2 separate regions of the Homo sapiens genome follow, and region 2 is linked to region 1. The links come from fine-mapping of genetic effects on gene expression. Tissue or cell type: whole blood. Region 1 holds a variant in brackets; the other region holds the start of a gene. All regions are shown on one strand. Distances are between the middles of the regions.

Region 1 (8,258 bases):
GGAGTTGCTGGAGCAAAGACCCCCAACATGAGAAGTGTGACTGGAGCTCATTTATGGGGTGGTGTGGGGAAGATTTGGCTTGAGGGCTCAAAGGAGGGGCATGGTCTTCTGTGCTAATTTGAAGAAGTTTAGTTTTTACAGTTGATACCACTGGAAAGCATTGAAAGATTGGTGAAAGAGCTGTAACATAATAAGACACATTTCGGTTTTGTTTTTACTTTTTTAAAAAAGGTCCATCAGACAGTGGAACATGTAGGTGGAAGTGTGCTGATGAATAGAGTATCTATAGTCCCCAGTCTCTCCCTACAACATATTTATTACTTACAAAGGGGAAAGTGTAGTGGAGAAACCTGGGAGACATGATCTCAACCAAAAGATCAAAGTTAACCTCACCAGGAATGGGCAAACCCCTCACCACGTGCCTCCTGTTACGATGCATGGAATAACTGTGTAGGGTATTCGTGCCCAAAATGTGTAACCTCAGTGAATCATGAGGAAACAAACCCAAATGGAGCAGTATTCTACCAAATAACTGGCCTGTGGCTTTCAGCAATGTCAAGATCATAAAAGAACCCCATTCCTTCCAATGCCCATCAGTATGTGACTGAATTCAGTGTGATGTACACATAGAATGGATTATTACCTAGTAATTTAACATCTCAATAGGTCAACATGGAAAGATCTCAGAACAATGGCAGATGAAAACTGGACTGAGCTGCCCTTTTCCCCACCTGTAAGATGAGCAGAAAACCAAAGTTTGATGGCATACTGTGTTGACAAGGTTGTGGAGAAACAGGCACTCTCTCTCTCTGTTTTTTTTTTTTTTTTTTTGAGACAAGGTCTCGCTCTGTCGCACAGGCTGGAGTGCAGTGGCACAATCACAGCTCATTGTAGCCTCAACCTCTCAGGGCTCAAGTGATTCTCTCACCTCAGCTTCCCTGGTAGTTGGGACTATAGGCACACACCACCATGCCCAGCTGATTTTTTTAGTTTTTTGTAGAGATGGGGTTTCACCATGTTGCCCAGGCTGATCTTGAGCTCCTGGGGTCGAGAGATTCTCCTGCCTCAGAATCTCAAAGTGCTGGATCACAGGTGTGAGCTCTCACACACCCAGCGGAGAAACAGGCACTCTCATGCTTTGCTGGTGGAGGAGCCACATTGATAAAATCTCTATAAAGTTGTAACTATCAAAATTATACATACTCTTGACCCAATAACCCTTTCTGGAATTCAGTATAACATTCCACTAGGTACAAGATTTTTTGTTTGTTTGTTTTGTGACGGAGTTTCACTCTTGTAGCCCAGGCCGGAGTGCAGTGGTATGATCCCAGCTCACTGCAACCTCTGCCTCCTGTGTTCAAGCGATTCTCCTGCCTCAGCCTCCTGAGTAGCTGGGATTACAGGCATGTGCCATCACACCTGGCTAATTTTTGTATATTTTAGTAGAGATGGGGTTTCACCATGTTGGCTAGGCTGGTCTGACATTCCTGACCTCAGGTGATCCACCCACCTTGGCCTCCCAAAGTGCTGGGATTGCAGTCGTGAGCCACTGAGCTCAAGGTGCTCAGTGTTACAATCTTGTAACAGCTGGTACAAGACTGTTAATTGCAGCATTACTTGTCATTTATTAAAAAGTAGGTCAGGCCAGGCTCGGTGGCTCATGCCTGTAATCCCAGCACTTTTGGAGGCCAAGGTGGGTGGATCACCTGAGGTCAGGAGTTCGAGACCAGCCTGGCCAACATGGTGAAACCCCATCTCTACTAAAAATACAAAATTTAGCCAGGCGTGGTGGTGTGTGCCTGTAATCCCAGCTACCCAGGAGGCTGAGGCAGGAGAATCGCTGGAACATGGGAGGCAGAGGCTGCAGTGAGCCGAGATCACACCACTGCACTCCAGCCTGGGTGACAGAGCAAGACTCCGTCTCAAAAAAAAAAAAAAAAAAAAAAAAAGTAGGTCAGGCACAATGACCTACTGCAATAATCCCAGCACATTGGGAGGCCAAGGAATGAAGATCGCTGGGGCCCAGGAGTTCAAGACTAGCCTGGGCAACATAGCAAGACCCCAGTCTCAAACAAATAAAAACAAGGCAGGTGTTTATCATTGAGACCCTCCTCTCCAAACAGTATCTCCTCCCAGCCCACATCTAGTGAGGGAAGAGGAAATAAACTGTCTTCCCCACCTGAAGCCCAATAACTCATCTCCTGTTTCTGCCCATCTTCCTTCCACCTGCGCTTTTGTCCGTGTATAGTGTGGGGGTAATGAGCTTTGTGTGAGCGGGAGGGTCTCAGGAGAACCAGGCTGAGGGATAGATAGATACCTAGATTCTGGCTCAACCTCCACAGCCTACTTCCCAGTGAATGTCAAGCCAGTTCCAGCCTGATTCGGGGACTATCAATAGGAAAGATGAAGCAATGTGTCACTCCAACCCACTTGTCCCCAGATTACAAGACACAAGACACATGTGGATTTGTCTATTAGGATAGGTTGTCGGAAGAACCCCAGGGGACCCTTCTTGGATCAGGAACCAATGTCCACGGCCCCAGTCCCATGGGACGGGGCCCCAGCATTCATGGCCGCAGCATAGAACTTGGCCACCTCCTCACTGGGGTTGCCCTGGGCTGAGTCAAACCACATCTAGATGCAGCGGCCACTCCCTCAGCTGTAGTTGTAGTTGCTGACCTTGAAGGAATGGCTCCAGAGGCCTTCACAAAGGGCAGCTGGAGTGGGGAAGTAGGGCTCAAAGGTGTGGCAGAGGGCCCAGGCCGGACACTCATTAATCCCTGAGGGAGGAGAATGTAAGACCCTTAGCTTCTGGGCCAGACCACACCCCTCCCAACCCCAAAGCCCCACTCCCACTCCTCACCTCATCTCCTCCGTCCCTCACCTGAGGTCCAATTCCAGCCTTTGTGCCAGTTGCTTTTGCAGGTGTAGGAGGTGCGACAGTCCTCCCACCAGCGCTCACAGTCCTCTTTGCACAGGGGCACGTTCAGAATGCGCTCTTTGCGCCAGCTCTGGTTGACCTGAGTGGGGAGGAGACGGAACACTCCTGTCAGCCACGTATCTCAGCCGCTTTACCCTTGAAGGAGACCAGAGCTGTGGGAGGGGGCAGGGCGTCCACCACCCTCAGACCCAAATTCCTGGACCAAGCCCTCTCTGCAAGTGGCTGGCAGGTTGTGCCCTCTGCTGAGATTAATGTTTTGTGTTGTTTTTGTTGTTGTTGTTTTATTTTTGAGACAAAGTCTCGCACTGTTGCTCAGGCTGGAGTGCAGTGGCACAATCTCGGTTCACTACAACCTCCACCTCCCAGGTTCAAGCGATTCTCCTGCCTCAGCCTCCTGAGTAGCTGGGATTACAGGCTCCCACCGCCATGCCCGGCTAATTTTTGTATTCTAGTAGAGACAGGGTTTCATCATGTTGGCCAGGCTGGTCTCGAACTCCTGACCTCAGGTAATCCACCTGCCTTGGCCTCCCAAAGTGCTGGGATTACAGGCATAAGCCAATGCACCCAGCTATGAGGTTCATGTTTGTGGGAATGGCACTCATACCTGCCAGATCCAGGGCCCGAGGTTGGGTGAGCACTCATAGAGACCGGTGTCCTGGATAAAGTGGCGCTTGCAGGCAGGCTCCATCTTACCACAGTGATCCCAGTTAAAGTTGTACAGGCGGGAGGTGTCCTTGTGCAGCTCCTGGCTGGTGTTGGTCATGCAGCAGGCATTCTTCTTCTAGGGACTGCACTGGGTGGGGAAGACACAGGACTAAGTCCCTCACCACCGCAGCCATCTCCCCCATATTCTGGCTCCTCTGCCCCAGGTAGGTCATCCAGAGGAACACTTCCTAGGGAGGGCCCTTGAGGAGTCCCCACCTGGGAACACAGGCAATTACAATATTGGTGCATTTTTCCCTTATTTATTTATTTATTTGAGACAGGTCTCTCTCTGTTGCACATGCTGGAGTGCTGTGGTGCAATTATAGCTCACTGTAGCCTCTACATCCTGTGCTCAAGCAATCCTCCCACCTCAGCCTTCTGAGTAGCTGGGATTCAGGCCCATGCCACCACACCTGGCTATTTTTAAAATCTTTTTGTAGAGACAAATGGGATCTAATTAAACTAAAGAGCGTCTGCACAGCAAAAGAAACTACCATCAGAGTGAACAGGCAACCTACAGAATGGGAGAAAATTTTTGCAATCTACCCATCTGACAAAGGGCTAATATCCAGAATCTACAAAGAACTTAAACAAATTTACAAGAAAAAAATCAAACAACCCCATCAAAAAGTGGGCAAAGGAAATGAACAGACACTTCTCAAAAGAAGACATTTATGCAGCCAACAGACACATGAAAAAATGCTCATCATCACTGGCCGTCAGAGAAATACAAATCAAAACCTCAATGAGATACCATCTCACACCAGTCAGAATGGCAATCATTAAAAAGTCAGCAAAAAACAGGTGCTGGAGAGGATGTGGAGAAATAGGAACACTTTTACACTGTTGGTGGGACTATAAACTAGTTCAACCATTGTGGAAGACAGTGGGGCGATTCCTCAAGGATCCAGAACTAGAAACACCATTTGACCCAGCCATCTCATTACTGGGTATATACTCAAAGGATTATAAATCATGCTGCTATAAAGGCATATGCACATGTATGTTTATTGCGGCGCTATTCACAATAGCAAAGACTTGGAACCAACCCAAATGTCCATCAGTGATAGACTGGATGAAGAAAATGTGGCACATATACACTATGGAATATATGCAGCCATAAAAAAGGATGAGTTCATGTCCTTTGTAGGGACATGGATGAAGCTGGAAACCATCATTCTGAGCAAACTATCGCAAGGACAGAAAACCAAACACCACATGTTCTCACTCATAGGTGGGAATTGAACAATGAGGACACTTGGACACAGAGTGGGGAACATCACACACC[G/A]GGACCTGTCGTGGGGTTGGGGGAGGGGGGGATAACATTAGGAGAAATACCTAATGTAAATGACGAGTTAATGGGTGCAGCACACCAATATGGCACATGTATACATATGTAACAAACCTGCACGTTGTGCAAATGTACCCTAGAACTTAAAGTATTAAAAAAAAAAAGATGGGGTCTCACTATGGTTCCCAGGCTAGTCTCAAACTCCTGGGCTCAAGCAATCCTCTCATCTCAGCTTCCCAAAGTGCTAAGATTACAGATGTGAGCCATCACGCCTGGCCAATATTGGCTTTTAACGGAGCATAATAGAGGGGAGCCACTGTCTGGGACAGTAATTATTGTTTGTACAGCTCTTAATGGTTGAAAAAGTTATTTCATGTTATTCAGCTTATTTATATTATTCATTTTGCATCCAGCCAATATTAACTGAGTGCTTATTAGACATCAGGCACTGTGATAGGTCCTAGGAACACCCCAGTGAACAAAGCAAGTAACATCTCTAGCCTCATGGAGGGTATAGTTTTAATGGGTGGATGGGCTGTGTGTACAGGGAAGATAAAGAACACTCAGGCATAGAAAACCATAGGTGCAAAGTCCCTGAGGCTTTTGCACTTTATCCTCTTAACAACCCAGTATGAATCCTTAAACCCATTTTTACAGCGTTTCAGTAAGCTACACCTGTGGTATATAGTAGGGTTAAGATTTAACTCAGGACAGGAAGGAGAGGAACCTGGCCCAGGTTGTGGGGGAGGGTGGAGGTCAAGGGGCTGGTGTGGCTTTTCCAGGGTCTGGAAGTCCAGGCAAGGAGACTCCAAATAGATCCTGAGAGTGGTGGGGGAACAGAGGAGCTGTAGCCTGAACGTGGGCCTGAACCCGGGCTTGACTAAATGTGGAAAAGGCAATCCTAGAAAGGTAAATACAATGCAGGCAAGACAAGCAGAAATGGTGGAGGTTTTTCTTTGGAAATCACTCTAGGCCAGGATGCAGAAAACCTGAGAAATCATGAGTCAATTGCATAACATTTCTGGGCTGAACCCTTGCACCTAGGGTCAAGTGATGGCAGAGGCGTGACAGGTCTGAGCAACCAGGAGAAACAATAGGGAAATCCATGGGAGTGGAGCCAGACCTACCCACTGGGCCACCACGCCCAGTGCCGGCCGACACAGAACATGCTTCCCCGCCAGCACAACTTCACACTTGCTTTTCCTTGGCTGTCCCAACTCTTGGTCTTCCTGCAAGACCCCTTGCACATCATGGGTCTTGGGGTTTGGCAGACATGGGTTTTGCCAGTCAGGGTCAGGGGTTTCTGCCTCTGAAAGAGTTACTGAATATAATGAAAAGTACTCCCTGGCTATAGAAGTGGCCCAACAAATATCATCACTCTCATATAGCTCATGGCCCTGAGAATGATAATCATCTGTATCTCTCAAAGTCTACATCTGCACCATTTCTTGGCAAAGAGTAGGTGCTTTAGAAGGTTCTGAAAAGCAAATGAAGTGGTGGGCACAAAGTTTCCATTTCAGTTTTGGAGAATGAAAGAGGTCAGGAGATGGATGGTGGTGATGGTTGCACAACCACATGAGCATACTTTTTTTTTTTTTTTGACAGAGTTTTGCTCTTGTTGCCCAGGCTGGAGTGCAATGGCGCGATCTCGGCTCACTGCAACCTCTGCCTCCCAGGTTCAAGCAATTCTCCCGTCTCAGCCTCCCGAGTAGCTGGGATTACAGGCATGGGCCACCATGCCCGGCTAATTTTTTTTTTTTTTGTATTTTTAGTAGAGACAGGGTTTCTCCATGTTGGTCAGGCTGGTCTCAAACTCCTGACCTCAGGTGATCCGCCCACCTCGGCCTCCCAAAGTGCTGGGATTACAGGCGTGAGCCACTGCACCCGGCATACATGAGCATACTTAATGCCACTGACCTGTACAGTTAAAAATGGCTAAAATGGAGAACTTATTTTATTTATTTATTTTAAATTTTACCCTGATTTTAAAATAAGCAAATGGAATGTTGGGAATGACTCAGATGTCACAGGGCTTCCAGGCTGTCCTCTCTTTGCTTTAGCCCTCGGAGCCTGTCCATGCCACAGTCTCTCCCTGGGCACATCCTCACCCTCTGGGAATGTGAACCCTTCTAGGGAGCAGGCCAGGAGACCAGAGAAATGAAATACAGGCACTCTCCTGAGCTTGGAATTCAAATTGGAGCTCATACTCCCCGAGCTGCCTCAGTGGCCTTACCTGTGGCATGAGGGCCCTGGCCTCCCCTCCCCTTCCTTGTGGGCAGTGGCACCGCTGGCTCTGGCCACACTGGACCCGCCATTGCTCGTGCCATCACCCTCTGACCTGTGTGCATGCTGTCCTCTACCAGGCTGCCCTTTCCCGCTTTTTCCTCCTAGAAAACTCTTACTCATCTTCCCAGGTCAAGGCCAATGGTCTCTTGCCTGGGAAGTCTCCCCAGCATATTGGATTGGTCGTTGTCTCTTCAGTACCTAATGGGGGTGGAAACCTGGACTGTTTGTACATGTAGGCTGCACCATGACCATGATGGGCCCAGCTCCTCTTCTACTGTGCCATTGAGCTCTGTGGGCTGGCACACAATTAAGGCTGGGAAAGGTATGGACAGTCCCTCTCCTCATTTCCCACTTGCACCTGCGCCCTCTCTGGGCCTATTTCCTCATTTGCGTAAGTAGAGACTACCACGCACCCACCCTGCCCTTTGGGCATATTCACTAACATGGCATGAGTGAAAGCACAAGGCTCATAGGCTCATAGTGGGTGTTAGGTATGTGGTTCCTTTATTATTGTAGATTTGGTGTCCTCCCAGGGGAGGCCCTCCAGGATCACAGCAGTCATCCTCTGCCTTCATCACCTTCCACAGCTGACTTCACCCTGCTAACTTTTCTCTGTCAAAGGCAGCTCTCTCCCCTGCCCCAGACCCGACTTTATCCTCACCTGGCCATACAGCTCGTCCTCGGGGCTGGGCTGTGTCTTGTGGTACTTGGCGTTCATGCAGACATTGAGCAGGTCTGTCCTGGCCCGCGCACTCCTGGGCTGGGCACTCCCCGCAGCAGTCACCAAAGCCAGAAGGAGCAGCTGCATCATCTGCCAGGCCATGTCCATCTATTCCTGCCAGAGAGCCACAGTCAGAGGTAGACAAGGCCTGAGGGAGGGGCAACAGCCATGTGATTGTGTACTGTCTCCCTCCCAGGCCCAGATCTCTGCTGTCCCCACCCTGCATCCCCTACAGGGCAGCTGAGCCAAGAAATGCGCTGCGTGTAGAGGTGAGAGGGAGCCCTTCCCCGGCTGGCCTGGAGGCAGGACTCTCC
Region 2 (8,000 bases), 48 kb before region 1:
GGGGGCAGAAATGCTGGTGGAGCCAGAGCGCGGGGGCAGCGGGGGCTTCTCATCCTCCCCATCTGTGGGCAGGGGTCAGTGGGCAGCCGTTTGGGCCTCCCACACTCAGTGGAGTAGGAGGCACGATGCAGCTGTAAAGTGACTTCCATGGAAAGAGGGTTAAAGGGCCCCGGCATCATGGCCAAGGGAAAGGGGGTTACAGGAGAGGTGGGGTTGAGAAGGGGGGATGGGAAGAGGCAGGTAGAGCCAAGGGACAGGGGCAGGGAGGGGACCTGCACACTGGGAAGTACCTGAGGCATCCCGGTCATCCGGTGGGTCCGGCTCTCGCTCACCCTCTACAGGAAGAAGCAGGGCGCACACAAGGCCCTGGTTGGGCTGGGCGTACAGGCCGATGAGCTCACCCAGGGTCTGGAAGCGGCGCACAGGCACACCCTGCGAGGTCTGTGGGCCAGCAAGGGTGGGAGGAAGGGTCAGCCAGCAGGTCCCCAAGCCCTAGGCTGGATCAAGGTCAGGGGTCAGGGGCCCAAGCTCCTACCTGCACAGCCAAGAAATCTTCTCCATCAGGCAGAATGCGATACGTGTGCACATGCTTCTGATACCTGATGCCAAGGCAGGGCCAGAATCTGTCACCCCCAGGCTGGGGTCTAAGACCCAAAGCACCCCTTCCTCCTGCCAGCAAGCTCAGCACCCCAACCCCCTCAGCTTGGTTTCCCTAAAACCACCTGCCCAGGCTGCACAGGGTTAATGATGTGGCCGGTCCACTTCCACCCTCCTGGTGTTGCCTATTGGGCAGGAATGACCAGAACACCCCCGTCTCCCCACCAGACCTACACAGACTCCACACCCACCACAGGGCAGGGCCTGAGAAGCAACAGGGAGCTCTTTTGTGGCCTCCACAGCTGTCTAAACAGCCCCTCTGGGCTGTGGTACCAGTCTGGGCTCCCCGCCAGAGTAAGAGTCTTCAGAAGCCTGGTTAGCCCATTTGCACACACGGGCAACGTGCTAACACGTGTGTATGCCTCCTGTGTTTATGCTGCTCTCTGGCTCTGCTGGAGTCGGGTATGTCTAGGGCACTTGTGCCGAGGAGTGTGGGGGCATCACCCTAGGCCTTCCCACCAAAGAGGGCCCCCATGGGAGACCTGGGCCTCTAGGAGCCCCAAGCCAAGGAGGGGCAAGAGGGGTGCTGACAGACAGGAGCCGCAGTTGAGCAGGTGGCAGCTGAGCCAGGTGCACAATCAGCGGGGGATGGAAGATCCTCTGCCTCCGCACCTCAGGGCATGCTTCCCCAAGGAGTCACCCAGGAGTCACCCTAGGTGACTCTCCTGGCTGCTTATGCTGGGTGAGTGTCTGTCACCAGGTGTTCCTTTGTAGACTATTACAAACACTATCTGTGTTTATTACAATAGCATACCATTAACTGAATCCTATCTGTGACACGCTGGGTACCCAGTGTCCTATAAATCTTACTTAATTCTCACACTTCTAAACAGATATTATTATCCCCATTCTCCAGCTGAGGAAACAGGCTCAAAGAATAAAAGTGATTTTCCTAAGGCCACAGAGTAAGTAAAAGGTGGAGTTGGGATTTTAAACCATGGCAGAAGCCAGGGCCAGTATCCTAGCTTGCTGGTCAGATTGCCTGTGCCTGCTGGGGCAGGGGCGTGTCTTGCATGTTATCCATGAACACCCGGAATGTATACAGGTAAGCAAGTATGTGTGTATTTGGCAAATCTAAGATATTGCCCACGTCTGATCGCCCACGTCTGATCCTTACCCCCAGGCTCTTGAGATGCGGGGAAGAGCCAGAGTCAGCTGGCAAACCTGAAGCCCCCACTCACAGACAGACCCCTCACCCCATTCACAGCCTCCCTTGGCAATGAGGCCAGGATTCTCCCCCTCCTGGGACAATAATGTTCCTCACCCAGACACAGGCCCCAGCTGTCCCCCTCCCACTCAACAGCTGACCCAGCACCTGCCTCCCTCCCCAGCCTAATTAGGGGGTATGCCTCAGAGGGGGCTGGGAAGCAGGACTTGGGGATATTCATCTGCCTAGTCTGTCCCTCCTTAGTCTCCCCCTACTGGGCCTCAGACTTGAGGCCTAAGCTAAGACTTATAGGGCCCCTTCCTTGTTGGGTCAATTGCCTAGGCTAGAGTTTTTCAACCTCCATACCACTGACATTTTGGATTGCACAGTTCTTTGTTGTGGGGGACTCTCTTGTGCACTGTAGAATGTTTAGCAGTATCCCCGGCTTCTACCCACTAGATGTCAATAGCACCATCCCAGTTGTGACAATTAAAAATGTCTCCCCAGCTGGGCGAGGTGGCTCCACCTGTAATCCTAGCACTTTGAGAGGCCGGGGCAGGTGGATCACTTGAGGTCAGGAGTTCAAGACCAGCCTGGCCAATATGGTGAAACCCCATCTCTACTAAAAATACAAAAATTAGCTGGGCTTGGTGGCGAGCGCCTGTAATCCCAGCTACTGGCGAGGCAGAGGCAGAAGAATCACTTGAATCCAGGAGGCGGAGGTTGCAGTGAGCCGAGATTGCACTACTGCACTCCAGCCTGGGCAACAGAGCGAGACTCTTTCTCAAAAAAAAAAAAAAAAAAAAAGGTCTCCCCTGGTCTAGGCTAATGTGCGCCCCGACCAAAGATGTCAGGAGAACAAAGGGGTAAGGAAGGTACAGTGGGACAGGAGTTTGGGAGGGGGTTCACAGAGCTAAGAAAGATCTAAATAAAGATCTAAATAACTGATCTAAATAAAGCAGCCCCCACAGATTCCCACTCACTGGGCCCACAGAAGCCAACTCAATGTCAGACTGCAGGGCAGGAGGTACAAAGCCGCTAGAAGGCTGCAAAACCAAGAGTGCTAACTCACCCCAGCACCACTACCAACCACACTGGGCTGAAAGGCACAGCCACAGGACCTGGCCCACTCAGAGAAGCACCAAGTCTGGCTCTGCTCTCACTCAGCACTCATAGCTCAGGGCTAGGGCAGCCAGGTAACCAGGGCTCAAGCCCAGAGCCAGGGCTCAAACACTCACTCATTGGTTCAGAAATAATGGCAAGGTCCCATACAGCCTCAGCCTCTGCTTCCCCAAGCCTTCCTCTCTACACCACCCATCACCGCCCCCACCACCCATACACGGCCAGGCAGAACCCCAAAGCACCGAAAGGGGCCCTAAGGAAGCTGCCAGGCATCCCCACACACCCCGTCAGTCCCTCTGCCCCGACTCCCTCTCCTGCTCACCACTCAGTCCCTATCCAAACGGGACTGCACACAACGTGGAATGCACATCCTCTCCCCTGCTCCCTTCTACCTGGAGGATGCCTGAAGGGGTCTGCCGGGGAATGCCCGAATTTTTCGTCATCACAGTCACACTGGGCCACAGAACCCCATATTCTCTACCCTCAAGGCTCCTGAAAGTGCCCCCAGACACACAGCAGGAAGTGCCCCTGCGTCCCTCCTCAGACCCAGGAGAAAGCCAAGGCTCCCACTCTGGGGGGTGGAGGCGGGTCTGGCGTCCCACCGCCCCAGAAACCCTCACCCGGGCCCTTTCCACACCCGGCCGTGCCCGCGCTCCCGGTCCACGCCAGCCCGCAAGGAGCCCCCGCCCCACTCACAGGACGCAGAGCGCGAAGGCCCCCGCCACGCTCTCGCTGTCTCGGACCAGGAAGCTGCCATCGCGGCCCGCCCGGGCCAGCAGCTCCTCCGCGGCCGCCCGGCTCAGGTCGCGGTGGTACCAGGAGGGGGCCTGGCTGCCCAGGGCGCCCCCCGGGCCCGGCGCCCCGCAGGCCGAGGCCATGGCCCGCGCAGGGCTCAGCACCGCCCGCCCCCGCCGCCCCGCGCCATCCGCCCCGAGACGCTCAGGGCTGAGGCTGGGGCCGGGCCCGGGGCCCGGGCTTGAGGATCCGTGGGCCGGACAGAGCCGGGGATCGGGACTCAGCACTCCGCCGCGCAGGCCGCCTCGTTCACCGCGCAGCCGCCGCTGCCTGCAGCGCCGGCCTCAACTTGAAGAGAAAGAAAAGTTTGTTCAGAGGCGGCGGGGGAGGGGCAGGAGCGGAGCGCAGGGCCGGCTGCCGCCCCCTCCCCCTCCGCTCGGCCCGCAGCCCGGGCCGCCCCTGCCCCCAGCTCCTCCTGCGGGGACGGTGCCCCCACCTTCCCGAAGGGCCCGGGACCTCCCAGACCCCACAATGATCCTGCCCCCATCATTCACCCGAGGAGATCCAGTCCCCAAATCCCCATCGAAATCCGAGTCCCCCCATCCTGGCCCCGACACTTCGGGATCCAGGCACCCCCTGGAGAATTCAGCGCTTCTCAGTTCTCCCAATGATATGACCCCTAAGCCCCATAAAGGTCTGATTCCACTCCATGGCTCTTCCTCTCGTCCCCCTTACAGCTTGGCTGCATCGAGTTCCCCAAACCTGCGAAGGATCCAGGACCACCCCCTACCCATCCTCTTCCCTCCACCCAAGCGGGCGGGGCCCCCAACTCCTGCGAAATGCAGCCCCCTCTTAGATCTGAACCCCCAACTCCACGGGAACCGTCCCCCGGCAAAGCCTGCGGGGAGATTCCCTGGCTAACCAGGCTTCTGAAGATTCTTACTCTGGCGGGGGGCCCAGACGAGGTGCGACGTTCTCGAGCCTCTCACGCAGCCCCTCCCAGCCCCGCAGAGCCCTTCCCCCTCTCGGCCAAGTTCCCCAGCACCACCCCCCACACCCGCAGGCCGGGCCTTGAGGGGGTTCAGCAGTCCGAAGCCAGGAGGATCCCTGGCCCGTCTAGTAGAAAGTTCCCTCCCGGGATCCCGGCCGCCGCACGCAGACCCCCACCTCCCGGGCTGCTCCGGCGCCCCCTTCCCCGGACAGCGGCCCTGGGCTCCAGGCGGCCACTTAAGATGGCCATCCGCGCGCGCCCCCGCCCTCCGCGCCGCCCGCCCCGCCCCGCGCCGCCCCGGGGAGCCGGGGGCAGCACCGCGCCTCGCCTCACCCCGCCCCGCGCCTCGGTCCCGGAGCCGCTGGCCCACTGGGTGACCTCGGGCAAGTCGCGGCGCGGGGTTGAGCGTCGGCTTCCCGCTCTGGAAAATGGGGATCCTGTGGCGAGGGCCGGCTCTGGGGGCCGAGCTCGTACCGCGCTCGGCACCGGGCCTGGCGCCCAGCCCGCGCTCCCGAACGGCGGCTATTTTTATTATTAATTAAGGAGAAACGAAGGTGACAGCTGTGTAAACTGTAAAGCGCGGCTGCGGAACGAACGGGTATTATTAGCACTCGCCCCCGCCCCAGCGGCTCCCTCCGAGTCAGCAAACTCGCGCCTCCGCGGGCCGGACGCCCAGCGGGGAGCTCCCAGACGGGGTCCGCTGCAACGCCCCCCTAGCTTCCTCCCCTCCAGCCGAGGGCGGAAGGGGGACGCGGCAGCCGCAAAGGGGGCGGAGCCCATAAAAGGGTCTGGCCCGCCCCCTCCCAAAAAAAGACCTAGCCGGTGGCGGCGTCTCCGGGGAGTCGTCTTCCTGCCCCGCCCCTCCGCCCCCTGGCTCCTTAAAGGCGCAGGCCTCCAGCCGGGCGCCCGCCGCCACCATCTCCTGGGCCGCCGTGGGAGAATCCCTTTAACCTGGGAGAGAACTTTCACTTTGCTACGTTGAACCTGTTGACGGAGCCCGGGTCAGTCCCTCGAGCTCCTTCCTCTATTTCAAATATGCATTGACTTAACCCAGCTGGAGCAGAGCCTGGGACGTGGAAGGGGCTCTGTGGGGCCTTCCACACTAGATAAATATAATAACTAAGAGATCCACCCACCCACCCAACAGTGCCTCCAGAACCCAATAACTCATCCTACAATCTGTGCCACCGTTCTCATCAGCCACCTTTTAGTATAAGAAAAGATGAGCCTGATGTGAGGGGAATCCTTGGTAGTGGGGGAGAGACCTGGACTGGGAGTCTGCACACCTGGGTTCTAGTCCTAGCTGGGCCACCTACCTGCAGGGTGTTCTCAGAGACTTACCTGGGCCTCTCTGGGGACAGTTGTAGTAGGAGTGTGCAAACAAAGACTTATCCAAAGGGAAAGGGGTGTTGGGAGACCCAGAGATAACTTAGGCCCAGCTCCCGAGGGCTTTGCAAAGACAGAGCAACCCCCTCAAGATAGGCATATCTGCCAATCCCAGGAGGAGACAAAGGTGCCAGAGGCTCCTGACCCCGGGAAGCCCTTAAGGGTTTCTAACTCTTCCAGCCACACCTCCAGGACACCAAAGCGCTGAACCAGTTCCAGGCTCTTGAGTATTCCACTCCAGAAACCCCCTACACTGCCCTCTCCAATTGGCTCTGTTTTTCCTCTGAGAGTCCCAGGCCCCAACTCTGCTCCTTCAATGTGCATCACGTTTTTTTCATCCCACTGTGAATTTTTTTCATCCCACTGGCAATCTGAATCCTTTCCTGGACTCCCATTCCCAGCTTTCCTGTTACAGAGCCGAGCACAGAGCCAGGCACAAGGGCTGGAGGACCAGGAGGCTGTTTGGAGACCAAGACAAATAAGCTCAGGACCTGGCTCCCACTTGGGGCAACAGGAACAACAGGATCCCTGAAGACTATTAATGTGCAGACACTGGGCTCACGGGCTTTCTAGGCAACAGCTCCTGTATATTTCACAAGCCTGAGGGCAGGACTATTATCCTCTTTTTATCCAGAAGGAAACAAAGGTTTAGAGCAGTGAAGCAACTGTTTCATTTTCACAAAGTAGCAGAGCTGGGATTCAAACACAGGTCTAGTTGCTCTAATTTGAAGGAATCCAGAAGCCGTAGAATCTGTCTCCCACCCACCCACAAACTCACAACCAAAACAATTCCACAGACATGGAATTATTAGAAAACAGTCTGTTTATTAGAAGTGACTCTTGGCCCCACCATGGAGCAGCAACAGACTGGGTGACAGAGGGTTAGGTGACTAATAGAAGCATGCTTAAGGGGCTGTCATTTGTGGGAGCTGAGCTGAGCCCAGCCTGGTTATCCAAGCTGAGGGCAGGTAGTCTGGGAGGACTGAACTCAGCCAAGGAGCCAGAGTTGCAGCATCAGGGCCAGACTGAGCAGGAGACCCCCAGTCCCATGAAGCATCTCACCAGCATTCACATGCATGGCTGCAGCATAGAACCTCGCCACTTCCTCGTTGGGGTTGCCCTGGGCTGAATCAAACCACATCTGGATGCAGCGGCCGCTCCCTCGGCTGTAGTTGCTGACCTTGTATGAGTGACTCCAGAGGCCTTCACAAAGGGCAGCTGGAGTGGGGAAGTAGGACTCAAAGGTGCGGCAGAGAGCCCCAGCTGGGCACTTGTTAACTCCTGCAGGGAGAGGCATGGTGGACACAGACTTTCAGCCCCTGGGCCCAAAGCTCATTTCTGGCCACCCCCAGAAATCTTCACCCCACCCCAAATCCTTGAAGATTTTCCAAACCCTACCTCAATCTCCTTTTTCCTAACCCCAACTCAATCACCCTCACCTGAGGTCCAGTCCCATCCTCTGTGCCAGTTGCTCTTGCACGTGTGGGAGGTGTGACAATCCTCCCACCAGCGCTGACAGTCCTCTTTGCATAAGGGCACATCCAGGAAGCGTTCTTTGCGCCAGCTCTGATTCACCTGGGTGGGAGGTGGGGAGGCAGGGCTCCTCTCAGCCAGGGATGCTGGCAGCCATCGCCTTGAAGTGACTGAGGGGGATGGCAGTCTGCTGGGGTGGGTGGGGGGGAGACACCCTACCTGCTGGATCCAGGGCCCCAGGTTGGGTGAGCACTCATAGAGACAGGTGTCCTGGATGAAGTGGCGCTTGCAGGCGGGCTCCATCTTGCCGCAGTGGTCCCAGTTAAAGTTGTACAGGCGGGAGGTGTCCTTGTGCAGCTCCTGGCTGGTGCTGGCTGTGCAGCAGGCATTCTTCTTCCAGGGACTGCACTGGGTGGGGAAGACACAGGACTAAGTGCCTCCCCATACCCTCCTCCTCCTGCCACCTCGTGTCTCTCCCCCATTTGGTTC

Evidence for each region. PIP is the estimated chance that this variant, and not a neighbour inherited with it, causes the effect.
Region 2: INPPL1 starts here. The variant in region 1 is fine-mapped to the expression of INPPL1 in whole blood (TOPMed, PIP 0.94).

The regions. Positions count from the first base shown.
Region 1 is chr11:72,172,243-72,180,500 of GRCh38, reverse strand. The region is part of intron 2 of FOLR1-AS1 (FOLR1 antisense RNA 1); the gene reads left to right. It also overlaps the pseudogene FOLR3P1. Among named protein-coding and RNA genes, the nearest start is that of FOLR1, 16 kb to the left of the region's middle. The variant G/A (reference allele first, on the strand shown) is at 4,935.
Region 2 is chr11:72,220,789-72,228,788 of GRCh38, reverse strand. It overlaps INPPL1 (inositol polyphosphate phosphatase like 1), which reads right to left and starts at 4,022. Exons shown (of 28, transcript NM_001567.4): 1 at 3,623-4,022; 2 at 536-599; 3 at 291-441; 4 at 1-62. The coding sequence starts at 3,804. FOLR2 (folate receptor beta) reads right to left here. Exons shown (of 5, transcript NM_000803.5): 3 at 7,731-7,919; 4 at 7,478-7,613; 5 at 6,839-7,319. The coding sequence ends at 7,027. RefSeq lists an enhancer at 1,772-2,131 and silencers at 3,537-3,746, 3,757-4,116, 4,667-5,066, 5,307-5,536.